6 linked regions of the Homo sapiens genome follow. The protein of the gene in region 1 purifies or fractionates together with the protein of each later gene. This does not show direct contact. Each region holds a gene or a part of one and is shown in the gene's direction. Other genes may lie near its edges.

Region 1 (5,150 bases):
GAGTTCAAGCGATTCTTCTGCCTCAGCCTCCTGAGTAGCGGGGACTACAGGCGCCTGCCACCACGACCGGCTAATTTTTGTATTTTTAGTAGAGACAGGGTTTCGCCATGTTGGCCAGGCTGATCTTGAACTGCTGACCTCAGGTGATCCGCCTGCCTCAGCCTCCCAAAGTGCTGGGATTACAGGCATGAGCCACCGCGCCCAGCCTGTTGTCACTCTTAATTTGAACTGAGCAGGTGGCACATTCCTTGCATGGTAAGAGTATGTAGCAGGCATTTGTGTACATCCAATTTCAAAGGACCTAAATTACCTTCTTGATCCCTATAAATTTTTTTTTTTTTTTGTCTCGAGGTCAAGGAAACTGCTTGGCTCCTAGGTTAGGAAGAGACAGTCTTGCAGGTACTTGATGAACTAGAGGAGTGATTCTCAGGCCTGTCTGTGAATTAGACTCACCTGGGGAGCTTAAACTGATGCAGGCCAGGCACTGTAGCTCATGCCTGTAATCCCAGCAGCTTGGGAGACCAAGGTGGGGGAATCACTGGAGGCTTGGAAGTTCAATACCAGCCTGGTCAATATAGCAAGACCCTGGCTCTGCAGAAAATTTAAAAAAATTAGCCAGGTATGGTGGTGCGTACCTGTAGTCCCGTCTACTCAGGAGATTGAGTTAAAAGAATCACTTCAGCCCCGGAGTTGGAGGCTGCAGTGAGTCCTGATAGCATCCCTGCATTCCGGCCTGTGTGACAGAATGAGACCCTGTCTGAAAAAACAAAAAAACTTCCTGACACCTAGGTTGCACCAGACCAGTGAAATTGCGATTGCTGTGGTGGCACCCAGGTGTCATTGTTTTTGTTTTTTATTTATTTTTATGTTTTGAGACAGGGTCTCGCTCTGTCACCCAGGCTAGAGTGCAGTGGCATGATCTTGGCTCACTGCAGCCTCCACCTCCTGGGCTCAAACGATCCTGCCACCTCAGCCCACCACGTAGCTGGGCCCAGAGGCATGCATCACCACGCCTGCTAATGTCTTAGTGTTTTTAAAACTCACGAGGTGATAGTGTGCAATCATGTTTGAGGGCTAGGGACATTTTCCCCCACCAGGGCACGTTTGGCAATATCTGGGGGCATTTTCGGTTGTCCCAACTGGGGGCGAGGGCATGTAGTGGGTCGAGGCCAGGTATTGCTGCTAAAACTCCTACAGTGCGCAGGACAGCCCCCCAAAGAATTATCTGGCTCCAGATGTCAAGAATGCCAAGGATTAGAGACCCTGGCCCACACCCTCAGTCCTTCAGTGGGATCTGGGACCAGTAGCACTGACACAGCCTGGAAGCGTAGAAATGCAGAATCCCAGGCCACACCCCAGACTTGCAGAATCCAAAACAACTCCCCCCACCCCCCACCACTCCCCCCAGAAAAACCCGGCCGCATGTGTGCACATTAAAGCATGCGAAGCCCTGGTTTCGAGGACACCTAGGGTCCCTTGCCAACTGATGAGTTCAAGGTTGGGAGGCACTGAGCACCGCGGATAAGAATGTGGGCTTTGAGATGACACAGGCGTCCTGGGCAGACAGATAGGTCGGGAGGGGAGGAGGAGAGATCTGCGGCATTTCTGCCCCTGAGAGTCTCCTTCCTCTCCGTGGGTCTGGAGGGAGAGTCAGGCCTCTTCAGCTGCCACACTCACCCACCTTCCCTCTCCTTTGTCCCACAGGCCCTGGTGATCACCAATTCAGCCAGAAAATCCTCCACGGTCGGGGAGATTGTCAACCTCATGTCTGTGGACGCTCAGAGGTTCATGGACTTGGCCACGTACATTAACATGATCTGGTCAGCCCCCCTGCAAGTCATCCTTGCTCTCTACCTCCTGTGGCTGGTGTGTGTTTAACGCCGTTTCCCTTTGCATGCAGGGAGGGACTTCTACGTGTGGGCAGTGGGCCGAGGGAGTGGGTGTTGATGGTAATGGCATGTAGAGCTCCCTGGCAGTTCCGGCTGTGGTTCATATTTTATTTTCCAGCCTGTTAACCAATTCCTCAGTATTTTGTTCCTTTCCTGAATTGTCAGGTTGATGTTCTCCTTGGTGGCATGGCGTTTTCATTTTCTCTTTTCCTTGACAGTGTCAGTAATTAACTACCCTACAATGGACGACACATCATATTTCTCCCCTTGAATCCTCCCAAACGCTAACCAGACTCACTTATTCATTAGTCCCTAATTATGGTGGTCAAAATTCTCTCAATTGCAAGGGATATAAATCTGTCTTAAAGTAGCCTAAGTGGCCGGTTGCAGAGGCTCACGCCTGTAATCCCAGCACTTTGGGAGGCCGAGGCGGGCAGATCACCTGAGATCAGGAGTTCGAGACCAGCCTCAACGTGGAGAAACCCCGTCTCTACTAAAAATACAAAATGAGCTGGGCGTGGTGGTGTATGCCTGTAATGCCAGCTACCTGGGAGGCTGAGACAGGAGAATTGCTTGAACCTGGAAGGCGGAGGTTGCGGTGAGCCGAGATTGGGCCATTGCACTCCAGCCTGGGCAACAAGAGTGAAACTCCAATTCCAAAAAAAAAAAAAAGTAGCCTAAGTAAATAGAGGGAACTTTGGGGCTGCATGTATCTCAGAAATCTGGGGACTAGCTTCAGGTGTGGATTGATCCAGGAGATCAAGCAATGTTGTCAGTACTCAGTTTCACCCACTGCCCTGTTGTCCTCTGAGTTAACATCATTCTCAGTGGTACTTCCCTACATGGCTCCGTAGCTTTGGGCTGATAACATCCTGATAGATAAAGGTGCCAGAGAAAAGACAAGGCAGCATTTCTCTGCACAGCCAGAGTCAGTCTCAGAGAGCACTCTGATTAGCCTGGCTTGGTCCTATTCACACCCGTGAACCAATCACTGTGGCCCAGGAGGCAGAGTTCTCTCATTGGCCAGCCTGGGTCACATGTCCTCTCCCATGGCAGAAGAGATGTGATTGACAGCCCTTCCATGTGGAGAGGGAGAGTTCCCAAAATAAAATGATAAGCAAAGAGGCTCATAGCACAACACATGCCTTGTGCTTTGCTACCTCTGGATCTTTGCCACGTACCTTTCCTTCCTTCTTCCTAATTGATGAAAGCCTGCTCATCCCCCAAGGCTGTAACAAACACTACTTCCATTGATTTACCCTCCCTTCTCAATTAGATGGACTTCTTCTTTTGAATTTTGAGTCCCAATAACTTTAGTATAGGAACTCATCTAATAATACTTTCTGAAATAGTTTTTTTTGTTTTGTTTTTGTTTTGACATGGAGTCGCGCTCTGTTGCCCAGGCTGGAGTGTGGTGTGCCATCTTGGCTCGCTGCAACCTCTGCCTCCCAGCTTCAAGCAATTCTCCTACCTCAGTCTCCCGAGTAGCTGGGACTACAGGCTTACACCACCACGCCCATTAAATTTTCTTTTTTTTTTGTATTTTTAGTAGAGACAGTGTTTGATCATGTTGGCTAGGCTGATCTTGAACTCCTGGCCTCAGGTGATCTACCCTCTGTGGTCTCCCAAAGTGTTGGAATTACAGGCGTGAGCCACCGTGCCCAGCCCACTCCCTGAAATAGTTTTGTTTTGTTTTTTTTGCATGCTCAGTGTACTGCCTCCTCTTTGAAGGGTAACATGTTAGCTACTTGCAGACATATAGCAGCTGACTTTTGTGTCTTCTGTGGGTACAACCCCAGCAGGGCCTGATGCATAATGGGCACAGCTCAAATTATTATCTGTTATTGAAAGAGAAGGGCTGGACGAAATGGCTCATGCTTGTGATCTGAACACTTTGGGAGGCCAAGGCGGGTGGATCATCTGAGGCCAGGAGAGCAGCCTGGCCAACATGGCAAAACCCCGTCTCTACTAAAAATATAAACATTAGTCAGGCATGGTGGTGTATGCCTATAATCTCAACTACTTGGGTGGCTGAGGCAGGAGAATGGCCTGAATCCGGGAGGCGGAGGTTGTATTGAGCTGAGTTTGTACCACTGCATACCAGCTTGGGCAACAGAGCGAGACTCTGTCTCAAAAAAAAGAAAAAGGAAGAAGAAAAAATTACTGGTTTATTTGGCTGTAGTTTGGTTTTTTTTTGTACATTTGTAGAGCAGAAGGTGAGTAAAGTGTTTCTAATAATAAAACTCAGAAAAAACACCAGAATTTAATTGTCTAATAGGCTGGGTACAGATATAGGTGGCATGCGCCTGTAATCCCTGCACTTTGGGAGGCTGAGGTGGAAGGATTGCTTGAAGCCAGGAGTTTGAGACCAGCCTGGGCAACATAGTGAGACCCTGTCTCTACAAAAAAAAAAAAAAAAAAAAAAAATTAGCTGGGCATGGTGGTGCCTACCTGTGGTCCCAGCTACCGTGGAGGCTGAGGCAGGAGGATTGCTTGAGCCTAGGAGTGCAGAGGCTGCAGTAAGCTAGGATCACACCACTGCACTCCTACCTGGGTGACAAGGCAAGACCCTGTCTCTAGAAGAAAAAAAAAATCTAAATAAAGTGTCTTTTCAAGCAGGTGTCTTGGGGAGTCCACTTTTGTAAAAGTGCTACTATGGGAAAAATATTTTTGGAACATTTGTTCTAGAACTGCCTTCAGGATTGGTTTATGAACCGTTAAGAAAATTGTCTAACATCACGTTTTGTTTTAGATGGTAGTTGCTTGAGCTCAGCACTGTTGACACTTGGGGCCAGACAGTTCTTTGTTGTGGGGGCTGTCTTTTTTTTTTGTTCTTGTTATTGTTTTTTTTGTTTTTTTAAGGGACAGAGTCTTGCTCTGTTGCCCAGGCTGGAGTGCAGTGGTGCGATCATAGCTCACTGCAGCCTTGAATTCTTGGCCTCAAGCAGTCTTCCCACTTTGTCATCTCATCTAGCTGGGGACTACAGGTGCACGCCACCATGCCTGGCTAAGTTATTTATTTTTTTGTAGAAATGGGGGTCTTGCTGTGTTGCCCAGGCTGGTCTCGAACTTCTACCCTCAAGCTATCTTACCACTTTGGCCTCCCAAAGTGATGGGATTACAGGTGTCAGTCACTGCACCTGGCCACAAGGCTATAAGTTAATACAGCAAAATTAGCAAGGAATTAAGGCACACATGGGGCGGTGTTCAAGAGAAGCCAGGTGCAGGCTTCCAGGAGTCCCCAGCAGAGTCACAGGTTCA
Region 2 (5,150 bases), on another chromosome or scaffold:
AACAAAGTTATTTGTTTTGAGACCTAATTAACTTTTATAAATCATAAATGTAATAGTTAACTACAGATGCAACCATAATCCAAACACCTTATGTAGCATTTTGTGTATTTCTTACCAGACCTCCCTTTTCTTAACTTTTTTTTTTTTTTTAATTAGGGACAGAGACTCACTACATTGCCCAGACTGGTCTTGAACTCCTAGGCTCAAGCAATCCACCCACCTCAGCTTCCCAAAGTGCTGGAAGTACAGGCCTAAGACACCATGCCCGGCCTCCCCACTTCTAATATGCATATTGTCATAATAGAAGTCTCATGTACATATAATTTTGTTCTCGTCTTTTTTTCTTGACCAGTATCTACAATATTGTTATATAATTTTTAGTTATTATTCCATAATTGACTTTACCATTTCTGTCTTTCTAGAAGTCACCTTAGCTTCTAGACTAGTGGATGGCAGGTACAAATAAAAATCCAGTTAATACTTTTGTTCAAACAGTGTAACTTTACCCACAGGCTGTGTTTTTCCCCCTTTGGGATAGATTACAAAATTTGGATGAATGGGTTAAGTAGTTTAAGTATTTTTAATAGACCTTAGTAGATATTGTCAGTTAGAATCTCTGTGTGATTACAGCATTGCTTGCTTTCAGCATTTTGGTTGTTGAAATTATTTTTCAAATATAATAGGTAGAAGTTAAAGCCTTAATGTTTTAGTTTTGTCTTTGGTTATTATGGGGTTGAATATTTTTTCATGTTTGCTAAGTTAAATTTCTCCTTTTTGTAAATTACCTGTTAATATTCTTTTGCATATTTAAATTTATATTGAACATCTGATATAATAGGATTTTCCAAAGTCATGAGAAGCTGTTGCCTAGAACTGGAATGACCTATTTTATATTATGCGAAACCTGTAGAAAAACCTGTAGAACCTGGGAAGGAGCTATTCTATCCCTGTATTCCATAATCTAGTCTACCTGGCTAAAAAATTATAGCCAACTAAGAAAGGGTTCTACATTCTGGATTATTTCCTTTTTTAGTGTTGAGAAAGTTGGTATTTTAGCCTTATGGAGACTATTAGCCTTACTGTTGAAATGAGCTGGCAAAGCCTTGTCTCTTGATACTAGTATATTAGACCCTAGAGTGTTTCTGAGTGATGGTTCTTGACTGTATTTACTCTCATATATAAAAGCATTTTCTCTTTAAAATTTCAATGAGCAGGCCAGGTGCGGTGGCTCACACCTGTAATCCCAGCACTTTGGGAGGCTGAGGCAGGCAGATCACCTGAGGTCAGGAGTTCGAGACCAGCCTGACCAACATGCAGAAATCAAAAATACAAAAAAATTAGCCAGGCGTGGTGGTGCATGCCTGTAATCCCAGCTACTCGGGAAGCTGAGGCAGGAGAATCACTTGAACCCAGGAGATGGAGGTTGCAGTGAGCTAAGATCGAGCTATTGCACTCCAGCCTGGGCAACAAGAGCAAAACTCCATCTCGAAAATAAATAAATAAATAAATTCAGTGAGCACTCTAGAAATGTGGTATTTAATAGATCTTTAGATAGCATACTTCTGCTTATGGTTTGTTATATGTCACTCATTCTCACATTCTCCTCATTTTGACTTTAGGTAAGAGCGCTACTACAGTGACCCAGGAGAATAGCATGTTAGCCCACTTGAGGGTCTCCAGGCTTCTCTAAGTTGTTAGCCTTTGGTGATTCCCTGGAGGCCCAGCTGCTGCTTTCTGTTAGCAGGTTCTCATTCAGTTATTTTTATTTACTCATTCATTTATTTAATCTTTCATTCATAGATATTTTTTGATCCTTCTCTAAAGGCACTGACAACTTTGAAATGTCACATAGGCCACAGGTGTATTTGCCAACTGCGAAAGGCATTTTTCATCCCTTTTCCCTTCTGAATTGACTTCTCCTTCCCACCCACGGGTCCCATGCCCTCATGCTGCCTTCAGTTGTCTGAAGTTCTTAAAGTAACACTACCAACGCCTGCTTGTCCCTAGAATAGCCTGGGTCCAAAATTGAGCTCCCTCCTGGCCTTCATCGAGCTTAATGTCTTTGTTCTCTTGGTAGAGTGATATCAGTGGTAAATAGAGGAAAATATCCTTATGTTAGATATTTTTCCAGGGAAGCACATTGCTACTTCTATTGCTATCCATAATGCCCTCCAGTATGACAGAGGAACAGAAGTTAGCAACTTGGTACCTAATTTCTCAGGCATTGCTAACTCCAAAACAATTGTAGATTTAGAAATCTGCAACTCTGGATTATACAATAAAGACTAAGATATGGCCCCTTAAGATATCTTTTAATTTGGAAAAACAACAACATGGATTCATTTAGTAATATTGAACATCTTTTAGGTGCTAGATATTGGTGATTAAAATGTTCGAGACATTCTTTTTATCTTTGGAATTCATATTTAGTGGTAGAAGGACATATAAACATGCTATTTTCTGCCAGCATGTAAATTAAGACAACATAGACGTGAGAATGCTTAGAACCCATTTGGAATTGGGCTGGTTTCACAGGGAAGGTGGTATTTATGCTGGACCTGGAAAGGTTGACTTGGGAAGATTGAGAGCAGATTTTATGGGTTAAGATTCAGTGCAGATTTCTTTTCTCTTTCACTGAGAGCCTGTGGAAGATTATAAGGTGGGAATACTGTAGTCAGATCTCTGTTTCAGAAAGTGGCCATGTGAAGTAAATTGGAGTGTGGAGAGTGTTGTCAGGATGCCATTTGAGAAGCTATTATATAGTAATTCCTGGACTGTGTAGAGGGACTTTGGGATGCTTTTGTTAGAAGAATAGGATAAAGACTTGTCTTGGGGCTGTGCTTGCATCGTAAGCCCACCATTTGCTGTTATGATTATTGTCTACATGCTTACTTTTAACTAGAATAGGACAGTGACAGAGATTATAGAAGACTGAAGCCCTTTCTCCTGCCATCCACTCAGCAGCATCACAACTACCGGCAACAGGGTGAAAGGTCTGCAGTGGAAATAAGACTCAGGAAATGATTTCAATACATAATGCAGAGAGAATCAACATTACTTCATGTGGGGGGAAAAGAATGATAGTTGAGAAAAGGCTCACAAGAGACTTTGAGACTTGGTAGGATTCACGAAACAGAACAGTCTGATTCCAGATTTCAGGCATGTAGAATGGGAGGGCCATAGGCAAAAAGGTGGGAAAGTGCAGAAATGACATGTTCAGGCCCCAAGGGTGCCTCAGGCTGGCTGGAGCACAGTTACTAACGGGACATTTGGGTAGGATGTAGTCCAGTGAGAAAAAGTTGCGGCATTGGTTGGATCCAAAAATGTACATGGGTCTAGGCTACTCTGGGCACACTGCCTGTGGGTTACCCTGCTTCACAAGGAGCAGCCAGTCTGCAATAAAAATAAAAATTAAAACATTAAAACAAACAAAGTGTACATGATCTAGATTTTTGGACTTTATACTGGTGGTGGTTAGAAACCACTAAGTATTTTGGTAAGAATTTTGTGGTCAAATCCATTTTAGGAAGACAAATTTTTAGGGAGCATCAAGGATGCACTAGAAGCTTTAAGAGCCCAAAAAGCAGGAATTCTAGGTATGAGGAGGCAGTTGCAATTTTCTATCCTTGGGCTACAGAGAGCTCAGTCATGTCAATGAGAATCTGAGAAGTTGGCCAAGGCTACACAGATACAGTGATGCGGTGGGAGCACGAATCTAAGACTTGCATGCTCTAAAGGTCATGCATTTTCAGTTCTACCTTGAGATCAGAGAAAATGAAGATGAGGCGGGAGGGATTTGAGGATTACAAAGTCAAAGGTGGAATTCAAGGGAGCATTTTCCATCGAGATATATGTAGAAGCCAATTTTCAGGGAATTACAGAGGAACTGGGTAACAGTGAAATGGCTTCTCAAGTTATTATAATGATTGAATGGTAGATTAACCTGGTCACTTGCTATGCAGATGTTTCATTTCCTGTCTAACTGTCCAAAAATCCTGCATCTAATATAATTTTTGCTCTCATATCTACCCCTTTTCTGCTCAGATGATTACTCGTTTTTCCCTGTAGGCTCCCCAGTGTTATTCATGGCCCTGAGACAGTGAGTGTGGAGCTGAGTGTCAGTTGGTGACATGTGTTTGGTCTTTCTTTCCTCACTGGCTCATTCATGATGAATTTTTATTAATCTTGGAGAAAGGCAGAAGTTGACTTTTGAGACAATTCTACCATAATAAGCTTAGTAAAAACACTAGGACTAGCAAAATCTTTGTATCTCTTCATTTGTAAAGTAAAACTATAGGCTTCATTCCTAGTAAACTTAACAAAATAAAATTAGCACCAATAAAAATATAATAAAATCTATATTATGTGAAAATATTTTAGTACACAAATACTACTCAATAATTGGCTTAGAATTTGGGGGTTGCCATTGAAGGGCATTCCTCAATTTTTTTTTTTAATTCTAGCCTTAGAAATTTTTTCTTCTGGAATATGTACATCTCTAGTCATATTAATACCAGTTGTGTGCTTTGTGTTTTATTCCTTATTAGGGCATCATTGCAGAATACAACAAAATCAATGATGTAAAGGAAGATGATGACACGGAGAAGTTTAAAGAAGCCATTGTGAAATTTCATAGGCTGTTTGGGATGCCAGAGGAAGAGAAACTCGTCAACTATTACTCTTGCAGCTATTGGAAGGGGAAGGTCCCCCGTCAGGGTTGGATGTACCTCAGCATTAACCACCTTTGCTTTTATTCTTTTCTTATGGGAAGGGAAGGTAAGTCATCTAAAATTTCAGCAGGAAACTTTGGAAAGTCTACTGAGGTTTGCCCTGAACTCATAAACCACATCAAAATATCAGAAATAAATCTATAGTTATAACTAAGTCAATACTAATTTTTTTTTACTACTGAAGTGAATTTAATTATTTTTCAGTTCAAAATGGTCACTAAGTAATAAAGATTCACTAAAGGTGTAATTAATTCAGTAGACATGGATTAAATCTATAATTCTGACCTCAGAATTCACATGGCCCAGATTTACCTCTTAAAATGAACAAGCAAAACAAATATGGTATTATAAACTCAAAGGAGTTCAGTGGGATGGGGGAGTGGGGTTGTGAGACTGCAATATCTTGAAAGCGTTTTCAGG
Region 3 (5,150 bases), on another chromosome or scaffold:
GCCTGGTGCCAGGCCCATGCTGGGGTTCCTCCCAAGTGGAATTACTGACTTAACATTTAGCTTGGGATCCTGAGACTTCCATCACACAGTTTTCTCATTGATTCGCAGCCAATAATATCTGTTTTAAAAACATCTCAGGCCGAGCGCTGTGGCTCACACCTGTAATCCCAGCACTTTGGGAGGCTGAGGTGGGCAGATCACCTGAGGTCGGGAGTTTGAGACCAGCCTGACCAACATGGAGAAACCCTGTCTCTTCTAAAAAAATACAAAATTAGCCAGGCGTGGTGGCGCATGCCTGTAATCCCAGCACTTTGGGAGGCTGAGGCAGGAGAATCGCTTGAACCCAGGAGACGGAGGTTCCGGTGAGCCGAGATCGCGCCATTGCACTCCAGCCTGGGCAACAAGAGCAAAACTCCGTCTCAAACAAACAAACAAAAAACATCTCTCTGCTCCTTGGGGCCGGGTGCCAGCTCTGCTATTGGAGGCACTGAGCGACCTTGAAGCAGGCATGTCACTCCTCTGTGCCCCAGTTTACTCATCTGTAAAGTGGGAGAGCTGGGGCAGACAGTGAGCTGGCTGAGGGCAGGACTGTGTCTCCTCAAGCCCATGGCCCAGGGCTGCCAGGTAGTAGTTTGTATTCGGTAAATGCTGCTGGCCCCTAAGTGTGAGCGTGCCCTGCAAACTGCAGCGTATGGTGGGACAGCCCTGCACGGCTACCCCTTTCCTGGGTGACCTTATTTGGTTACGGTCCTATCTGAAGTAGGAAAGGGACACTTTAGGCTGTCTCTTAGCTCCCTCAAGGCCCCACAGCCTGGACTAGAGTTGCCAGAAATACTTGGTCCATTCAGGCCAAAGGGACTGTGAGGTTGCTGGGATGGTGCAATCAGTCTTTGTCCATGATGAACCCACAGGGTAGACCAGGGGTTGGGCCAGCCCAGTGCCCTGTGTAGTTGAGCCCAGGCCCCAGGCATCCCATCCCGGGCGGTGGCCTCAGGTGGAGGTGGGGCAGCCAGTTGCCAGGGATGTGTTCCAGCGGTCACCTCTCACCAGCCCCGGCTGCCCATCAGCTGTTCTCAAGTCCAGGCAATGAAGCCTTCCTGCCAGGAAATTCCCAGAGTTTCTGTGCCATGAAGTCAGCCTGTGGCCATCTTGGGACACAAGGCCGGGTGCCCTGGGGAGAGTACTCTGGGCCCTTGGCCAGGTTTGTCTGAGAGTCATAGGCAGCCTGATACTAGTGGAGCCAGCCAGGGAGGGATGAGGCCCAGCCGCTGCTGGCCATAAGTATATAAGGGCCATGTGCTGAGTGCCTACTATGTGCCAGGTTTTGAAATCAGTACTTGATTTATTGAAACCCTCTCTTTTAATCCTCAAGGTGCCCCTATGAGGCACGTACCATTTATTGTTATTGCCACTTGACAGATGAGAAAACAGAGGCTCAGAGAGGCAAAGTGGCTTGAAATTCAGTGATTGGTCTGGGATTTGAATCCACAGCCATGTTCTTAAGGGCATGCTATGCTGCCACCTATCCTGTTTATTTCCGGCACTCATTGATTCTTCAATGTTTGACTCATTAAATCCATCAGTGAGCATCTTCTCTGTGTCATGCATGGTTCTCACCTCTGAAGATGTAGCTGTGAGCAAAACTTCTACAGGGAATGAGTTCACAGCAGAGGGATCAGCTAGAGCAAAGGCTCAGAGGTGGGACCGTGCGTCCTGTGTTCCAGGAATACAGTATGGCTGCAGCAGAGAGCAGTGGAGAGAGGGCCTGGCAGTGAGGTCTAGAGGCGGCCGGGCTGGCTCATGCTGGATGTTTGTGTCCTCGGAAGGACTTTGGCTTTATTTTAAAGAGGATGGGGAGCCCCAGAGAGCACAGCAGGGAAGCCTGGGGAGTCTGATGGACATTTAAAAGGATCCTTAATGGAGAGAGTGAAGGCAGAGCCTTCCAGAAGGGTAAGAGAAGGGAGGATGGAGACCTGCCCTCCCCCAAGGGAGGCCACTCAGAAGAGGTAGAGTGTGGCCAGGGCAGAGAGCAAGAGAGGCTGTGGACACAGGCACACTGGTCCAGTGAGAGCCATTAGACACATTAGATTTAGCTTCATGTTGTCTTTAGAGAGGGAGCCAGCCTGGCCTCGCTCTATGATCTTGGACACATCCTTTCACTTCTGGGTCTCAGTTTCCCCATTAGTGTGATGAGGATGAGAATGCTTTTGTCCTGGGCACACTATGAGGGTGGTGCTGGGCACCTGGGTGCCTGGTTACCATGGGCAACAAAGCTCTATTCATGGGTGTGGTGAATGCATTGCCCACAGCAACTCAGGGCGGATGAGGAGTTTCCCAGCAGCCCCTGGTGCCCTTTCGGCTGAAGCCCTAACAACTGTGGGAAAATCCAAGTTCCAGCAGACCCCCTGAGCCCTCTGCCTTAGGACCCTCCTTCTAGGTGGTTCTCTGAGCCTGGCCTGAGCTGGAGGAGGGAGTGGCCAGTGCTGCAGCAGAGGCTGCTTCATAGTAATTGCAGCCAACAGTTATTGACTAGGCACTGTTCTGAGGGGTTTAGATGTGGTAACTGATTGAATTCGCCTAACAACTTTATGAGGTAAGTCCTATTGTTAGCCCATTTTGTAGATGAGGAGACTGAGTTTGAAACTGGGGGGTGTAATGGAACCTTCTCAGGACCCTTGAAGGGTAGGGCCTTTGTACTCGGGCCACGAGGGTGGGGTTTGTGTCTGGGTGGGAGCTGGGGAGGGACAGGACTAGGATTAGGCAGATCTGAGGCCACAGGAGTTGGTTGGGGGGTGGCTCCAGAGCCACTCCACTCCCTCCTACCACATTGACTGCCTTGAAAGTCCCCTAATGGCCACTCCCATGAAGTGTGACTGCTCTGGGCTCCCCGCAGGCGTTTTCTGCAAGGCCACCGCCCACCCAGGCCCCTTCCCCAGAGGGGCTGCAGTGCCTTGCTCCTTCCTTGTGGGAAGAGTTGGGATTGTCTGGCGTCAGCAGGATACTGCCCCTGGGCATCCCTCCCGGTCTCTTCCTGCGGGTTTCTGATGAAACAGCCAGGCTCCAGTAGTGGAGCCAGAGGTCAGTGGTGGAGAGAGGACCAGGAGCCAGAGGGTATAGCTGCTTTGGGGCTACTGTGGGGTCAGGGACACTTGTGAGGCCAAGCGTCCTGGCTGCAGGAGCCCTCACATATATGCCCACCCTTCACCAGGACATTGAGGGGTGCTGGGGGACAGGGGTAGCTTTTTGGGGGTGTCTGCCTTCGACTTGGGCTCCGCTACACAGGCCAAATTTGGATGTCCCATGTTTAGAGCTGTGTTTCTTTGGGACCTCTTGGGGCCTCAGTTTCCTCATCTGTAAAATGGGATACTGATAGTGCTTCCCCACTGGCCTCCTCTGACGGGCGCCAGGGAGAGGATGGGACGGAGCATGGTGTGCTGGGCACGCTCCTGCTGTACCCACCCACCTGGGAGAGGGGAGAGGCAGGAATGTCCTGGGGGTGTCCTTTGAGGCATAGCCCTGTCACCCCAACATCCTACAAAGGCATGAGAAGGCAGCGAGGACAGACCCCGACCACCTGAGCCCTCAGCAGCCCTGCCACACTCCCTGCTTCACCCCCTTCCTGACTGATCTGGCACATTCTTGATTCTCCTAGGGAGTGACCCAAAATCCCTCCCTGCCCTGCTGTGTCTCTGGGGTGGAAGGAGGCTGCCAGCCCCTCCTCTCTCCCAGCCTCAGGCTTGGCCAGGACTTAACAGGCAGGCAGAGAAGCAGCTTCTCCACTCTCTTCCCTGACACCTGTAGGCCCCTCCTGCAGGCACTTACCTCTAAGTGGACTCTCAGGAGGAGGCTCATCAGGGCTGCAGGGCTCAGAAAGAGCTGGGCTGTGGAGCTCTTGCCAACCGCCAGGCCCCTTCTAAGTGCTTTAGCGCCACCGACTGCATCCTCCCAGCAGCCTTGTGAGATGGGGATTTGTGGTTCCCAGTTTACTGATGAGAAATACTGATGAGAGATGGGTGTGGTCTTGTCTGGGGCTCCCTGGCTCCTGGATAGCAGCTCAGGTTCCATCCTGGGCAGGCTGGCTCTGGGACACCCCCCCGACCAGCTGCTGTGTGGGATTCACGGTGGGGCTTGGGCAGGGCGTGGGATCTTGGGGCCAACTGAGCCACTCTAGGCTTCCAGGGACCAAGGCCAGGCTGAGCTGTCTCTGTATCCTGAGAGAGCATGAACATCACAGAAGATGGGCCCGGGTTCGAATCCCAGCTCTGCCACTACTAACTGGGACCTGGGCAGGTGTCCCTTCCCGCTGAGCCTTCATTTCCTCACCAGCAAAATGGTTCGTGCCCCTGCTTTGGGGGCTGTGGAGGGTTGGCTCTTGTCTACTTGTTCATACCTGCTGTTGAGCAGCTGCTCTGTGCCGGCCTCTGAGGATGCCACTGTGAACAGAGCCTGTCGCTACCTCCAGGAGCTTGTGTTTAGGGGTGCCGTTTTGATTCCAGCACTTTCACCCAGCTCTGCTCCGGTACCCGATGAGAGACGTCGAGTGCCGCTTTCCACTCGCTTGGGTGCGTGTGGGGGTTGGGGGGACAGGGCTTTGTGCACGTACCCCTGGGTGGATGTTCCTGGGTGCACTTAGGGTGTGTGAGGGTGGGACCTCCCACAGTTCCCTGAGGCTCCACTGATGAGGTCCAAGAACCGCCTTCCTGCCCCCCAGCCCAGGCTCCCAGCAGCTGGGCCCTTGGCTTCTTGAGATAGTGACTGGCCTCACGGCAAGGACCCCCGCACACCACCTAGGAGAACTGCTGCTTCCCCTCTGTTCCAGGAGTGGCGACAAGCACAGTTTTTCGCTTTTGTTTTTGTTTTCTTCACTTTAAGTTCCGGGAAACGTGCAGAATGTGCAGGTTTGTTACATAGGTATACATGTGCCATGGTGGTTTGCTGCACCCGTCAACCCCTCATCTAGGTTTTAAGCTCCATATACATTAGGCATTTGTCCTAATGCTCTCCCTCCCCTTGCCCCTCACCCGCCCAGTAAGCCCCGGTGTGTGATGTTCCCTTCCCTGTGTCCATGTGTTCTCATTGTTCAACTCTCACTTATGAGTGAGAAGAGACCTGGACTCTGATCTAACCTCGGTCAAATGGAACTGTGTGAC
Region 4 (5,782 bases), on another chromosome or scaffold:
CAGAAGTCATATTACACGTTATAGGTTTAATATAATGAAATTTTTCCAGACTTAGAAAAGATATCAGGAAATTAACATTTGCAAGGCAATTTACAGTTTTCAAAGAGCTTTTCTCATTAATTATCTCAGAAAACTGAATAATGATGTGATTATTAAAGGTTAATTAAGCAAATACTTGTGAAGTAATTGGGAGGTAATCTATTTCTAATTTAACAGGTCAATCACGGGTATTTAGGAAATATTTTTGCTGGTTAACAACTCTAACCAAAACAAAAAGGTATTTAAATGGTTTCCCTAGTGAAAAACCATAAGCATGTGTTTCCTCTATTAAGTCAATTGTTTCAAAGAACTAGCATGAGAATTCCTAATTTCACCGTTTTGATGATTTAAGGTTTTATGAAGATTCTGAGCTCTTCCCTCCCGACGTTAATCCATGTCTTACATTGTTCATTTTGGCGCTTTAGAATAAAATATCTTTGGAAAGTAACTATGAGAAAGCACAGAGGGATATGTTAGTGAAATAGCCATTTTCTTGTGGGAAGCAAGACATTTCGGTTATCGACTACACAGAAGAGTGAATAAAACCCAACGCCTATCAACCACCAAACGTGACTCTGCTTGCATAATCATACAAATAAATTTTCTTTAAAAATTTTTCATGGGTGCAGTATATAAAATGATCAATAGTCTCATCAGCAGTGGAACTACAAACTGCTTTCTCCTAACTTTGTGTAGCCTGGGTGCTGCCTCACGATTACTAAGTGGTTTAAAATCATATCCCACTTGCTCCTTGGTTTATCAGCGAAAGACGTGATTCCCAGGTAGGAAAACGCCAAGTGTCCCGCAAAGGTACAGGTAAAACGTAGCAGTTACTGCGAGAAGACTGGCCCCGGGGAGTCCCAGGGCTCGGTCGGGGCCCCCGCACGAGCTGAGGAAGTGGACAGCGGGCACCTTTGTCTGTGCCTAGTTCCCTGGACCCGGGCCGAGCGATGCGGGTGGGGGCGCGGTTCGGGCGGGTCCCGGCGCTGCCCGGGGGAAGCGCGCGGCGACGGCGGCCCGGCTTGGGAGCCGGAGGTCAGCGGCTGCGCGGCCGGCCCCCTCCCACGGGAGCCGCGCCAGGGCCCAGCAAGAGTCGGGCGGGATCGCTATTGTTTTTGGCGAGCACATAAATCCCCGGGCCGACCCACTGCGCACCCAGGTTTCCTCCCGGAGGCCTTTCGGTTTCCTCTGAGGCCCTATATAGAGGCTCCAGGCCCGGACTGTGCAGAGGTGCGCGCCCACGCCGGCCTCCCGGACCAGCCTGAGCTCGGAGCGCCTCTCGCCCTCAGGTCTCTGCAGCCAGAGGCATCTGGGGAGGTGAGGGGGGAATTTGTCCCCGAGGCGAGGAGGAGGAGGCGGGGGCGCGCGGAGCCGAGGGGCTGCGGCGAGCGGGCGGGAGGAGCAGGAGGATCCGCTTCTCCGGGGTTTCCCTGACGCCAGCAGCAGCGCCCGGCGCGCGCGCCCCGCACCCGTCAGCGGCTCCGGGGAGAAGGGGGAGGGGAGCGGGCCCGCCACGGCCCGAGAGGCGGCAGCCGGGATTGGAGCGGGGGCGGGCCGCGCGCGGAGCCGAGGGGGTGCGGGCGAGGCGCGCGCGTGCGCGTGTGCGCGCCCGGGACTCCCGCCCCCCGCCCCCGCCCCCGCCCCCGCCGTCCGCGGTCTCCGCCCCCCTCGCGCTGGTGTGTGGAGCCGGAGTCGGCGGCGGGTGGCGGCGCCTGGAACCTGGAGACCGACCCACCGCCCCCCCCCCCCCGCCCCGGAATGTACTGACTCCCCTTCTTCGCTCTCCTCCCCTCCCCGCCCCCTTGCAGGAGGGAGGCGCCCTGGAGTCTCCCCTCCAGCGAGAGGGGCTGCGCGGGCCGGGCCGGGCCGGGCTGGGCTGGAGCAGCGGCGGCCGCGGGAGCCGAGCTTGCAGCGAGGGACCGGCTGAGGCGCGCGGGAGGGAAGGAGGCAAGGGCTCCGCGGCGCTGTCGCCGCCGCTGCCGCTCACTCTCGGGGAAGAGATGGCGGCGGAGCGGGGAGCCCGGCGACTCCTCAGCACCCCCTCCTTCTGGCTCTACTGCCTGCTGCTGCTCGGGCGCCGGGCGCCGGGCGCCGCGGCCGCCAGGAGCGGCTCCGCGCCGCAGTCCCCAGGTAAGCGGCGGGCGCGGGCCCGGGGGTTCGCGGGGGCGCGGCACCGGCTCAGGCGGCCGCGGCTGCGGTGTTTTTGTTTAGGATCCAGGAGGAAACGTGCAGGAACTTCTCTGCCTCGGCTCCGGTTGCCGAAGAGAAAGGGGATCGCGCGTGGTGGGGAGGAGAAGGGCGAGAGGGGGCGCCACCGGGGAAGGGGCGGCTGCCGGGGGGCAGGTCGGGGGCGCAGGGGTCTAGTTCCCAGCTTTGTACCTGGAGGCAGGTTCACCCCTCGCCTCTCTCCCCTCCCCCAGGCTCATCCCACTTGTAAGAGTGGGACATTCTTGTGCTCACACTAGCACCAGTAGAGGCCACTACACACCTCATTAAATAAACAATCAGACGGCCAATTCATTAATTTTCAGGAAAGGAAAGGGGAGGGGGCTTGAGCTCCTGGTTCCCTGGCCAGGGATTTCCCAGCTTCCGAAGTCTCGAGGAAGAGCTGGCTAGTCTCGAGGGACTCCTCGCGCGGGGATTGGAGCCCGAGTCTGCGGAAGAGCGGGGGTGTCAGAGGGGCACAATTGCCCGCTCACAACCCCTGGTGTTGATTTAACGATGAGGACGCCTTGGAGAGCGGCTCGGAGTGATCGTATCTGTTAGTGTTTCCGTTATGAAATGCCTCTTCTTTCCTGGGGATTACAACTATATTTACAGCCTATTAACCACTCTTAACCAAGGGAATTGTCTAAGCATCAGATTTTAGGTACTTGTACAATGTTTTCAGATGGCATTGTATAAACATTGAACCTCAAAAGCCATTTTCAGTTCTTTTTTGGAATATTATAGATTACTGAAACCACCTGCATTCCTATTAAGGGGACCAACGAACAAAAATGCCAAGCCTTCCGGGAAGGACCTTACGGTATTGTTGAGCAGGATACACTCAGCAGTTGAAAGGCAAATTAGCATGTAATCTGTTAAAATTATTTGACCAAGGTGGTGTACCATAAAACTTGACAAAACTTTCACTCGTGTGAGATATGATATTTTTACATTTGAAAGCAGTCTTACCGCTGAACCAGTACTTGTTTTTCCCTGATTTATATGAAATAATATTTAAAATCACACTGCAAGGTAACTTGACTGATAAACTTTTCATTTCCTTGCAGAGTGTGTATGTAGCTCATGGCTTTTGCCAATGTTAAAGAACAGCTTTAAACGTAAAGTACCACTCGGTATTCTCTAAACAGCTACGTAAACAATAGTGTTTTAATGTCAAATTAAACATCACTTATGTCATGATGTACCCTTATACATTCAGTCCGTATATGGTTTAGAACACATTTTGGTGCTGAAATGCAGGTTACTGATCCAACTGTCTCTTAGATGAGCAAGAGAAATATAACTATTTTGGAAAACAAGTTCCTGTTACTCATGATCTATTTTATATGGAAATTCATATGTAGTTCACCAAATTTCAAGTTTTTGTTTAAAGTTTTGCCGATAATTTTGTAAGTAACTAAAATGCTAGTAATTTTATTACTTAGGATAATAAAAATAATGCAAGCAGTCTCAGGAAGTGGTCTTAACATCTGTTTCAACATTAACTCAATTGACAGGTTTTTATTTTGCACAGATGAGGTGCAAGGCATATGCTCTCTGCCTTCATGGAGTTTACAGTCTGGTGTGTGGGTAGGAAAGATAGCCATCCATCTACTGATTATATAATTAAGTAATTGTGATAAGCACTACAAAGGAGAATAGGTTTTCACAAAGTGGGTACTGGAGTGACATAACCTAGTCTGGGTGTTAAGAGTGTCTCACAAGAACTGAGATCTGAGGAGTGGGTAGGAGTGGAGGTGGGGAGGCTCACAGGTAATTAGTCGTTTAATTGGGTCTAGAACATAGATCTCCTGATTCTCGGTCCAGAGTCCTTCCTGTAAACCGCTCTGCTTCATTACAAAAGCGAGAGGAATAACTGCAATAAGGAGGGGTTGGTCAGTTCTGCCATAAAACTGCGGAAGAGATCAAGAGACTGGAGAACTGAGTAAGCAGCAACTGGAACAAGCTGTCCGCAAATCAGATGTCCTTTGTCAGTAGTTTTATTTTTTTTATTTTTGTAGAGTGATAGACTTATAAATCTTTTTATAGGGGATTATAGTGAATAGATTGTAGGGAAGTGGACATGTTCAGTAGTAGAAGGTGGAGAAAAATAGAGATGTGGGACAATAGGATAAATGGAAAGTGTTTTTCCATCTGAGGTTATAGACATACGGAGGTGGAGGAAAAAGTAAGAAGTAAAGGACTGGTGATAGAAAATGGTCAGCAAGGGAGGAGGGTTGGAATTGAGTAGGAACATAATCTGGTATTCTGAAAAAGGGCAGATTACTGAAAAGATATGTAGAGACCTTGGGGAAGATGACATGGCAGCAGCCTGTGCAATGCATGTCTTCTCTATTTAGAGTGAACATTCTTCACCGAGGACTCTGTAGCTTCTGCCTGAACCATTTATTTCATGATGTGATTCATTGCCTTACAGGGTAGTCCATTTCTGTGTTGAATAACTTCTGTTAGAAAATGTTGCTTTGTACAGTACATTTCACTGTAGTTTTCACCCTCCCCACCCTTCTTACATTTTTTCCTCTTTGCTTACCTTTTTCAGCATTACTCTATCTTCAGGTTAATCTCTTCTCTGATTAATTCTTCATTTGTCTTTCTGGCTTTTCTTGAACTCACTCACTTAAATATTAGTATCTAAAGCTTATCTCATTATACATACTCTGTTTGCCCTCAGTTGCCACCTGTAAGCTAAGGACTCTCTTAGTCCACACTTTCTCACTTGCCACTCGGTACCTTCACTAAATAGGATCTTAGGTTACTGAAGTCCGAAGTTAAACTCTGTGTCATTTTCCCTCGTGCTTCCTTCATCCCCATTCTCTAAACATGAACAAACCAGTTCCTGGCCCCTGTGTCTCATGTTGTTGGAAGGATTGCATGGATTTGTCTTCTTGTGTTGCCTGTCTTGGTCATCACTGTTCATCCACTTGCCCAAGCTGAGATCAAGAAGACCTCCTCTTCCCATTGCCATAGCGGATAGTTCTTTTTGCTTTTTACCTCTCAGCTGTTTCTTGACTCTGAATCGGTATCTTTTCATCTTCATCCCCACCTGGACTAACAGTAGTGGCTCCATAATTAATCTCTTTGTCTGTACTGTTACCCTCTAGAAGTCTGTCCTGCTAGAATGAGCTTCCTGAAATATTTTCCTGAGCATGCCACTCTCCTACTTAAAATCTGTTACTAGTGTTCTGTAGCTTGGGTGTTAGAACTCTTTGGCATGGAGATTGTGAGGCCCTTTGTATTCTTTACCTCTGTTCTCCCAAACCCAATAAAGCCTCATCTCTTGTCACCCCTAACATGCACCTTGCATTCCACCACTCCAGATTAACGACACAGCTTCAGATCTCCGTGCCTTTGCACATGCTGTTCTTTCTGTTAAGTCACTTCTCACCTTGTCCACTTCTGAAACTCCTTATCTAGTCAATGAATTTTTCTCTACCAGCTTTCTCTTCCAAAGAGAGTTATGGTCACTATTCTGTGTTCCCATAGCTTCCTGAGTACTTTTCATCTTCTGTTACTT
Region 5 (5,150 bases), on another chromosome or scaffold:
CCTGGAAGATGCCATCCTTGTCCTGTGTGATGCAGTAAGTTAGTGGTAGCTGGCACCAGAACAAAGTGTATAGGATCCAATTGGTTTCTCTGACTTTAGTAGAATTTTTGTTTGTTTATTTACTAGAATATAGTCATTAAAGATTTAAAAAAAAAAAAGGAGGGCTGGGAGACCTCATCTCTACAAAAAAAAATTAAAAATTAGCTAGGCATCGTGGCACATGCCTGTAGTCCCGGGCTTCGTGTTGCACACTTGTAATCCCAGCTACTCCAGAGGTTGAGGTGGGAGGATCACTTGAGCCCAGGAGCTGGAGGTTGCAGTGAGCCGAGATGGTACCACTGCATTCCAGCCTGGGCAACAGAGGGAGACCCTATCTCTAAATTAATAAATAAGAAGCTGAGCTAATGGAAAAGAGCGTTGCATTGCATGTGAAAGGGGTATCGACACAGAAACCACAAACCTGAACATTGTGAGCCGTTGAATTCACAAAGGAAAGGGAACACTATTCCAATAGCCCTTAAGAGGCCCACCTGCAGCCAGTCTCGTTCCATGCCAACTCATTCTTCATTCTTATGATTTGAACTCATAAAAAAAGATTGGCGTGCTCAGATCACTCCCCTACTTTAAGAAGCTGTGGTGGCTTGCCATTCCCAACAGAATAAAGTTCAGGTCCCTTAGCAAGGCGCAGAAGGAAGGCCCTTCACAGATGTCCCACCCTCGTCTTTAGTTCTTTCCTCTCCCTTCCTCCATGAATCCCCCTCTGTAGCCATGCCGCCTGCTCTACCAGCATATCATTTACTGTCTTATCCTGTACCCCTTTGTGCTGTTCCCTTTTCCTAGAATGACACTTGCCCATTCATGTCCACCTTATGACCTCCTCCTTCAATGTTCAAACACAGCCTCTTTTTCACAGTTTCCCCTCAAACTTCCCCCACTTACTCAGTGATTATTTCCCCATGTGTTTTCAAACCTACTTTTTACATTATGTCTAATACTTACGGCATTATTGCTGTTTGTGTGAGAGTCTCACTAAGCTGTGATCTTGGGGAGAGGGGGCATTTTGATAAATATAATTTTTTTTTTGAGAGAGTCTCACTCTGTCACCCAGGCTGGAGTGCAGTGATGCCATCTCAGCACTGCAACCTCTGCCTCCCGGGTTCAAGCAATTCTCCTGCCTCAGCCTCCCGACTAGCTGGGACTACAGGCACATGCCACCACACCCAGCTAATTTTTGTATTTTTAGTAGAGATGGGGTTTCACCATATTGGTCAGGCTGGTCTCAAACTCCTGACCTCAGGTGATCCACCTGCCTTGGCCTTCCAAAGTGCTGGGATTACAGGCGTGAGCCAACGTTCCTGGCCTCCTCATGTGTTTTTAAACCTACTTTATACGTTACGTCTAATACTTATGACATTATTGCTATTTGTGTGCCTGTCTCACTAAGCTGTGATCTTCTTGGGGAAAGGTGGCATATCTTGTTTATCTTTGTATTTCTGTTTGCTAGAACTATGCCTGGCAAATAGTAGGTATATAACAAATATTTATTGGCCTGAAAGATGTGATTGGTGGTAATACCTCCTAAGGAGAAACACAGTCAGTGAAGTACATTACTGTTTCCTGAATGAGTATTATCTTTCTAAGGAAGATCTGTAGAATCCTCTGCAAGGAGAAAGGGATTGAGTAAAAATTGCATTTTGGGTGAATATTTAGAAGTGAGGTGGTATAAAAAATAAGGGTCGAGAGAAGAACGGTCTGAGGGTATAAAGAATGAATACGTAGAACAAAAAGGAAATGGGACTAGAAATAGAATGGAAAACAAAGCAAGGAGAAAAATAGAGAGAGTGATCATGTGGCCAGGATTTTAGAATCGCACTTAGTTTAATTGCAGGGGAGTTACTGGACAATGCTTTCTCACATAGACGTTCCAAACTCTCGTTCCTGAATGAATCCCATTTTGTATTCTTCACATCACTCTCTCCCTGAAAAGACACAAGTATGCTTCTTACAACTGCCTTACAATTAGTGCATTGTTCTCCCCTGTTTTTCTATGGAGAGCCAGGGAAGGCAGAGTAGTATAAGGGAAAAGCACCCACTATGCTGGGAATCAGAAGGCGGGGCTCACGCATCCCAGCTCTGTGACCTCGAGCAAGGCACTAGGCCACTTTCACCTCAGAATTGTCATCTATAAAATGGGAATGATAATATCGTCACGGGCTTCCTCACAGGATTGTTGTAAAGATCAAAATAAGTGAAATATGTGAAAACACTTTGTAAGCTGTCAGGTTGCTCTGCAAATGAAGGGAATATTACCTTTTTGTTGAATTATTCATTCAATACAGTAGGCTCCATTGGAGGCATACTTCTGTCTCCTGTTAATAAGTCCTGTTTACAGAACGGAGATTCTTTTTTATTGTGTTTCTTTTTTATTAACAGTATTCTGAAGTCTCAGGAAACTGGACCATTTAAATGTGCATGGCCCATGAGAAAGGCTTATAAGAAGCCATGGCACTCCCCTTTCAAAAAGAGCTGGAGAAATACAAGAACATTGATGAAGATGAGCTTCTTGGCAAACTCTCAGAAGAGGAACTGAAACAGTTGGAAAATGTTCTAGATGACCTAGATCCTGAGGTTAGTGACATGGAACTGAAGCAGAGTGGTTAATGATAGTATGGATAAATGGCATGGCTTGGTCCTTAAACAATGGTAGAAATCCCTTAGCTCGGAATGCACATTTTCTTTTCTTCCTCTGATTGGTTCTGGGTCACCTGTGTTTACAAATTCATAGAGAACCTCATAGCCACTACAGTGTGATACAGCAAATGTATTTCTCAAAAACCAGCCCAATGTAAATGGGGGGAAATATTTTCCGTTGGTTGAGAAAGGACTAGTCTTGTTTAGGGGAAAAAGAAGGAAAGAGGAAAAGAGAGCAAATCTTACTGAGTTTTTTCTGAGTCATATATTTCTCTGGGCACAGAAGCCCTTGAGGTAAACTTTATTAACCCCTAGACATGGAGAGGTAATTTATATAAGATTCCACACTGGTAAGTGTCAGAGATGGTATTTAAACCAGGTTTTTAGGCCCAAATGCAGAATTTTTTTTTTTTTTGAGACAGTCTCACTCTGTCACCCAGGCTGGAGTGCCGTGGCAAGATCTCGGCTCACTGCAACCTCTGCCTCCCAGATTCAAGCGATTCTCCTACCTCAGCCTCCCAGGTAGCTGAAATTATAGACACATGCCACCATGCCTGGCTGATTTTTATATTTTTAGTAGAGACGGGGTTTCGCCAGGTTGGCCATGTTGGTCTCGAATTCCTGACCTCAGGTGATCTGCCCACCTCAGCCTCCCAAAGTACTGGGATTATAGGCCTAAGCCACCACACCCGGCCCCAAACGCAGATTTTTAAAAATATCTCATTTCTTTCAAATGCACAAATAATGTGAACTCTTTGATGAACTTATAACAAAGAATAGATTAGACTGACTATAATCATGATACCAAGTTCATTTCAATGGAGTTTCTAATGTTTTTATAAGTTCTTGAAAAGCTAAGTCGCTTGTTATATTGTTTGATTAGCAAGCACTTTCTTCAGACCTGCTGGTATGATCTTAAACTTAGAATTAGCAGTACTTTTATAAAAAAAGATATGCTGGAAATTGCTCCGTGTAATTTTTTAAATAAAAAGTCAATTACGGTTAAAAAAAAAAAATCGGAGCCATCCAAAATAGTGATTTTACCATAAATAAAAATATAACTAAAACAAAATTATGTATATGGTATTCTGATATGTCAGATACTTTGGATATGGTATTTACTTTTAAAAATACAGATATTCTGTTGTTGTTTTTTTAAATTAAGGAAGGAATCTGAAAGCTTTATCAAGCAGGCATTAACATCATCATAGTGTTTACTTATCAGCTTTACTGCTTCTGCAGGAGAGGGGTTCCCCATGTCAGCTCCTTGTTAGAGTCTCATGTTTCTGCCTGGGAGCACCTTGGGTGCAGCCCTAGCCAAACCTAAGCATGATCTACAAGGAAAGAGGTCTTTTGCCTCCATGTTTTAGGAGGCAGCTTCAGAAACTCAGAGGCTGCTCTAGCCATCTATGCGCTGCTTGAGCTCATTGGGAGCCCCCTCTCAGCACTGAACATTATAACAAATAGGGCCTCAGAGGCGTCCCAGAGCCCCCAGCCCTCAGCTCACACGCACATTCTGCGTAGGTATCCTTCCTGCTTCCCCAGCACATAGTGAGTGGGGGTGGAAGAGGAAGTAGCAAAGTACAGGCCGGCAGACATCTTCCTTCCTGCTCACACCTCTTTCTTGTCAGAGTGCCATGCTGCCAGCTGGATTTCGACAGAAAGACCAGACACAGAAGGCAGCCACCGGCCCCTTTGACCGCGAGCACCTCCTCATGTACCTGGAGAAGGAGGCTTTGGAACAGAAAGACAGAGAGGACTTTGTGCCCTTCACTGGAGAAAAGAAAGGTAAGGACCACAGGCAGAGCATCTTGGAACAGAGGTTCTCTCTTTTTTTTTTTTGGAACGGAGGCACTCTTAATTAAGATTACCTCTTTTTATTTTATTGTCGTGGAGGATCAAGCAAGGGAACTGTCCCAGACATGGGAAATAAGCCCATGAATTGGATTCAGTATTTATTTTATTGTCGTGGAGGGTCAAGCAAGGGAACTGTCCGGGAAATGGGAAATAAGCCCATGAACTGGATTCAGTATTTATTTTATTGTCGTGGAGGGTCAAGCAAGGGAACTGTCTGGGAAATGGGAAATAAGCCCATGAACTAGATTCAGTATTTATTTTATTGTCGTGGAGGGTCAAGCAAGGGAACTGTCCCGGAAATGGGAAATAAGCCCATGAACTGGATTCAGTATTTATTTTATTGTCGTGGAGGGTCAAGCAAGGGAACTGTCCCGGAAATGGGAAATAAGCCCATGAACTGGAGTCGGTGTTAAAAAGAATCATGGCTGCTAGCTAGACATATGTCATTCTACATTGGGCCAAACCCATAAGATGTGTAACACCAAGAGTGAACCCTAATGGAAACTGTGGACATTGGGTGATAATGATGTGTCCATGATGGTTCATCAGTTGTAGTATAAGTATCGCTATGGTATAGGATGCCATTAGTCAGGGGAGGATGA
Region 6 (5,150 bases), on another chromosome or scaffold:
GGCAGAGCAAGTGTCTTCACATGGCCAGAGCAGGAGGAAGAGAGAGATGGGGGAGATGCCACACGTTTTTAAACAACCAGGTCTTGTGAGAAGTGTATCTCGAGAACAGCACCAAAGGGAGAACTCCACCCCCCTGATCCAATCACCTTCCACCAGGCCCCACCTCCAGCATTGGGGATTACCATTCAACATGAGATTTGGGTGGGGACACAGACCCAAACCATAGCATGGTGGTGCGGTGTGTTTTGTTGCTGTTCTTTTTTGGCCAAATAATTGCTCAAGGACTTTTTAAAAAAGAAATGTATATGCTACATAATTACTTCACAAATGGTTTGAAGATCTAAGTAAGTCAGACGTTTTGGCAAGTGTTAAAATTTAGTGTTTCAAGGTGAGAGAATGCTCTGTATAAGAAATGTTTAGTTAATTGCAGATCATACAAAAGTTCCTAATAATTTTTTTAAAGGACTTTGTAAGTTTTTGGAGGGAGCAAAATGGATTTCACAACAACCAACACCTCTCACCTCCCCATCTACAAGCTTCCTCCGACAGTGGTTACCAATAATGTCTGTTTTATAGTTATTTAAAGCTTCATAAGTACTTGAAGCCATGTATTCTGCTTAAAAGAAAAGTAGTTGATGGAGGCAACAGTGTTTCCAGGGATGTCATTAATTATCTCTTTTTCACCGACATTATTTCAGTTAAAGTTTTAAAAGACAGTTACTACCTCTAGGAAATAAATGTTCTTTTTGAATGATATCCTACCATCCCCCACCTCCTTTAAGGCAGTAATGCAGTTAAATGCTTCCGAAAACAAGGCCATGTGACGCTTAGTAATTGGTGATAGGACAGGATGCTTATGGTGGAATGAAGGAGCACTATTTAGGCAATATCATTGGAGTTGCTTTGAAATACTCAATTAACTAGTAATTCTGTTGCTAATGTTCTGTACAGATACATAAGCATCTCCATTTTTACTTACCTGTAAGAAGCAGGAAACAAATCATTGTTGAGTACCAAATCCATAGGTTAATGTGGTCTTAATAGTTAACTATTATATGCAGTATAAATGAAAGAGTCTTTCTCTTTCTGTAAGTTGCCCTCTTCTTCTCTTCTACGTCTCTTATCTCTCCCCCTGTATTTAGCTGACATATTTATTTTGACATATTTAGTTGATCTGCCTGCCTCAGCCTCCCAAAGTGCTGGGATTATAGGCGTGAGCCACCATGCCCAGCTGGGAGTTGGTTTATTAAGCCTAACATTATGATATTAAAAATTTGTCTTTGAAACGTCTAATCTGAGCTAGGGTTTTATGGCTGATTTTTGACATAGTGATACTGAGGAGAAACTCTTCCATTCAATCTGTAAAATTCTGAGATCATGTGAAATATTTGTGGCATAACTTTAATATTAGTTTTGGGCCACAGTGATAAAGATGCTTTAACTGTAAAATTAAAATGATCTGTTTCAGGTTTTTTATTGTTTTGCAGATCAGCAATTCATGCTAAAAAAGTGTCCTGCCCTACTTCAAGAAATGGTTAATGTAATCTGCCAACTAATAGTAATGGCCCGGAACCGTGAAGGTGAGGAGGAAATATAGTTAATTATGTTATACTTTTTCTTGCAAGCATATGCAGATTGTACTTCATATTTTAGGATTTATGGGTACTCAGACTTCTGTCGGCCAGTTCAGTGAGCTTCTTCAATTTTACTCATGTCTTTTCATATTTCTTTCCTATATTTTCTATTATTTAAAGTCTATATCACAGCTCACTGGGTTTTTTTTGTTCTTTTTTTTTTTTGAGATGGAGTCTTGCTTTGTCGCCCAGGCTGGAGTGCAGTGACAAAATCTTGGCTCTCTGCAACCTCTGCCTCCTGGGTTCAAGCGATTCTCCTGCCTCAGCCTCCTGAGCAGCTGGGATTACAGGCGCGTACCACCACACCTGGCTAATTTTTGTATTTTTGGTAGAGACAGGGTTTTACCATGTTGGCCAGGATGGTCTCCATCTCCTGACCTCGTGATCCACCTGCCTCAGCCTCCCAAAGCCCTGGTCACTGTGTTTTTGATTTTAATTCTTGTTTTTTTTTTTTTTGGAGACAGAGTCTCACTCTGTCGCCTAGGCTGGAGTGCAGTGGCGCGATCTTGGCTCACTGCAACCTCCGCCTCCCAGGGTCAAGTGATTCTCCTGCCTCAGCCTCCTGAGTAGCTGGCATTACAGGCGCATGCCACCACGCCCGGCTAATTTTTGTATTTTTAGTAGAGACGGGGTTTCATCAGGTTGGTCAGGCTGGTCTCAAACTCCTGACCTTGTGATCCACCTGCCTCAGCCTCCCAAAGTGCTGTGATTACAGGCATGATAATTTAATTATTTTATTGTTCAATTGTTTGCAAAGATTTAAAATTTCTCTTTCTTTGAATAATTTTTGAGTTAGGTCATTTTTTCTAACAGTGAATTTGAAATCTTTAACTGATATAAAAGTGATTCATATGTCATGTAATTTTTATTAATTAATTATAGACAGCATCTACCAGGGCTGGAGTCCAGTAGGGTAATCATAGCTCACTGCAGCCTCAAACTCCTGGGCTCAAGCAGTCCTTCTACCTTAGCTCTCCGAGTAGCTGGAACTACAGGTGCATACCACAGCACGGAGCTAACTTTACATTTTGTGTAGAGGTGGGATCTCACTTTGTCGCCCAGACTGGTCTGGTTTCCAACTCCTGGCTTTAAGCAATCCTCCCACTTCAGCTTCCCAAAGCCCTGGGATTACAGTCATGAGCCACATGCCTACAGGCACCTAGCCATTTTTTTTTTTTTGGTATGGAAGGAAAAGAATGAGGGAATTTCTGGTCAGTAATGGAAAGGAATGCCCTTAAAAAAGGATAGTGGTTATGGTTTGTTGTTACGGGTGATGTTGGTTCTTGTCATGGTGTCATATGTTGGTGATACTGATAATGTCTGATAATTTACTATTATTTGAGGTGAGGCAAATAATTTTTCTTTTAAATCAATGGTTGTTGCTGGAAAATGTTCATTAGATCGAGTTTGTATATTTTTAGTGTCTTCTCTGGTAACTTTTAAAGGAAAATCTTACTATGATCCTCAAATTTGAGGTGTTATGGATTTAGTGTGAATTTTGTTTTTGTGATGAATTGTATACTCCTGAACATGTAAAAAGTCCAGCCCTGTTTCTTTTTTTCCTGTTCTTTCTAAGAAAGGGAGTTTCGTGCTCCAACTTTGGCATCCCTAGAAAACTGCATGAAGCTTTCTCAGATGGCCGTTCAGGGACTTCAGCAATTTAAGTCTCCCCTTCTGCAGCTCCCTCATATTGAAGAGGACAATCTTAGACGGGTTTCTAATCATAAGAAGGTAATTCTTTGCTACTTTAAAGTCAGTTTTCAGCAGTTTGTCCTGTCACTTAAAGGTAACATGAATAAAAGTTTTCTGGAAATGGTTACTATGCATTTTTTAGATTTAGAATGTCTTAAATACTCTAAAACTTTCTCTCAGGTGGTTCTGTTAACATTTTCTTGACTAGGTAGCTGTGTTTTATAGTATTTTACTACTGTAAGTAGTTTTATTATTTTGGGGGTTGTTGCATTTAAAAAGTCAACAGTTAGTTCCTTATATTATGTTACCAAAAATAAATGTACTGTCTACTTTACAGTCATTTTATTCTTGGCTTAAGGTTGGGCAATTGTTTACTGGTTAAGCATGAACAACAAAAACATTTAATAAATCAAATAAAGACAGTTCTTATTTAGAATATATAATCTATAGTATAAACATGATAATGAATCTTAAGATATAACAAAAATTTGTGTAAATGAAAAACTTGAGGAAATATAAGAAACTGAAGTTACAATTCTAGTAGGAGATTTTAAACATTATTTTGTATATGATAGATAAAACTAGCAGAGAATAGACATTGGATTTGATAGTATATTAATGTAGAATTAATAAATGCATGTTGGAAATTAGTATCAGAGTTCTCTGTCCTTTTAAGTACTCATGTTCCCCTTATAAATTTGATTGTATGTTAAGTCATAATTAAAAACTTCAGAATCTAAAAGCAGAGATTTTACATGCCTCATGATCTAATCTGTGTCTTTGAAAGTGAAAAATAACTAGCACCAAACACCTGGAAAATTAAAGAACACGCTCCTAAGTAACCATTTTGCCAAGATGGATATTACTGTAGTAATAGCTATATTTTAAGAATAACAAAAATGAGAATATTGCATAGTAAAACTTTGAAGGTGCGTCTTTATTGAGGTTTATTTTTACTTTTATTAGGTAAAAGTAAACGTTTATTATTAAAGGTTTGTTAATAGTAAACCTATTAATTGCTAATTAAAGGTTTTTGTTATTAAAATTGAAAATAAACTGAGGACATCAATTGACAAAGTTCTTGGTTGAGTCAAGATTCTTATTTTTTCCCTCCAACTTTGTTTTTTCTAATTTAAAAAAATAAGCCTGTATTAACTTTATAATTTAAAAATTCTTAATTTAAATTTTCTTGGAGAAAAAGGTCATGAAATGCCATATCGTTATTTTGTACTTTGAAATGCACATTAATCAACACTTTTCTAAAAGTTGCTGGATTTTGTTGTGGTTAACATGTGAGTAATTTTCTTTTTATGAAAAGCTTTGTGAGTTAGGGAATTATGTATTTTCTTTTTTTTTTTTATTCAGTATAAAATTAAAACTATCCAGGATTTGGTGAGTTTAAAAGAATCAGATCGTCACACTCTACTGCACTTCCTTGAAGATGAAAAATATGAAGAGGTTATGGCTGTCCTTGGGAGTTTTCCATATGTGACCATGGATATAAAATCACAGGGTAAGTGGGAGGTTTCTCTGTTGAGCATTGCTTCCCTTTTGATAGATTGGTTCTCATTTATTTGACTCAGGATTCTCAAAACACTGTACTTAATAACATAACTTGTTATTAGACTTTGCAGAACTGTAGTTTACCTGTCAGATTTACTATGTTGGAAAATGATTTATACCTAATAGTTTGAGAACACTGATAGAGTCCTACTTTTATTATCCTCATAATGGGATGAAGTCTGAACACTCTGTTCTGTAGTTCAACTTTTAGCAATTTCTTAACTTTCCAAAGAATGATGAAGACTTCCAGGCATAATAAAA

What was found.
Region 2: the proteins of ABCC1 (region 1) and TBC1D9 fractionate together in Homo sapiens (co-fractionation; one large-scale study listed by BioGRID). This does not show direct contact.
Region 3: the proteins of ABCC1 (region 1) and FADS3 purify together in Homo sapiens (co-immunoprecipitation; one large-scale study listed by IntAct). This does not show direct contact.
Region 4: the proteins of ABCC1 (region 1) and NEO1 fractionate together in Homo sapiens (co-fractionation; one large-scale study listed by BioGRID). This does not show direct contact.
Region 5: the proteins of ABCC1 (region 1) and TMOD2 fractionate together in Homo sapiens (co-fractionation; one large-scale study listed by BioGRID). This does not show direct contact.
Region 6: the proteins of ABCC1 (region 1) and SEC63 fractionate together in Homo sapiens (co-fractionation; one large-scale study listed by BioGRID). This does not show direct contact.

Annotation. Positions count from the first base shown.
Region 1 is NC_000016.10:16,046,438-16,051,587, forward strand, and holds part of ABCC1 (multidrug resistance-associated protein 1), read left to right. Parts: intron 1-1,704; coding exon 1,705-1,866; intron 1,867-5,150.
Region 2 is NC_000004.12:140,679,241-140,684,390, reverse strand, and holds part of TBC1D9 (TBC1 domain family member 9), read left to right. Parts: intron 1-4,547; coding exon 4,548-4,776; intron 4,777-5,150. UniProt on the Homo sapiens protein: May act as a GTPase-activating protein for Rab family protein(s).
Region 3 is NC_000011.10:61,884,184-61,889,333, reverse strand, and holds part of FADS3 (fatty acid desaturase 3), read left to right. Parts: intron 1-2,574; exon of another isoform or gene 2,575-2,593; intron 2,594-5,150. UniProt on the Homo sapiens protein: Mammals have different sphingoid bases that differ in their length and/or pattern of desaturation and hydroxyl groups.
Region 4 is NC_000015.10:73,050,637-73,056,418, forward strand, and holds the start of NEO1 (neogenin isoform 1 precursor), read left to right. Parts: upstream 1-1,826; 5' UTR 1,827-2,039; coding exon 2,040-2,169; intron 2,170-5,782. UniProt on the Homo sapiens protein: Multi-functional cell surface receptor regulating cell adhesion in many diverse developmental processes, including neural tube and mammary gland formation, myogenesis and angiogenesis.
Region 5 is NC_000015.10:51,763,940-51,769,089, forward strand, and holds part of TMOD2 (tropomodulin-2), read left to right. Parts: intron 1-2,433; 5' UTR 2,434-2,502; coding exon 2,503-2,628; intron 2,629-4,322; coding exon 4,323-4,479; intron 4,480-5,150. UniProt on the Homo sapiens protein: Blocks the elongation and depolymerization of the actin filaments at the pointed end. The Tmod/TM complex contributes to the formation of the short actin protofilament, which in turn defines the geometry of the membrane skeleton.
Region 6 is NC_000006.12:107,901,059-107,906,208, reverse strand, and holds part of SEC63 (translocation protein SEC63 homolog), read left to right. Parts: intron 1-1,487; coding exon 1,488-1,580; intron 1,581-3,210; coding exon 3,211-3,365; intron 3,366-4,691; coding exon 4,692-4,839; intron 4,840-5,150. UniProt on the Homo sapiens protein: Mediates cotranslational and post-translational transport of certain precursor polypeptides across endoplasmic reticulum (ER). Proposed to play an auxiliary role in recognition of precursors with short and apolar signal peptides.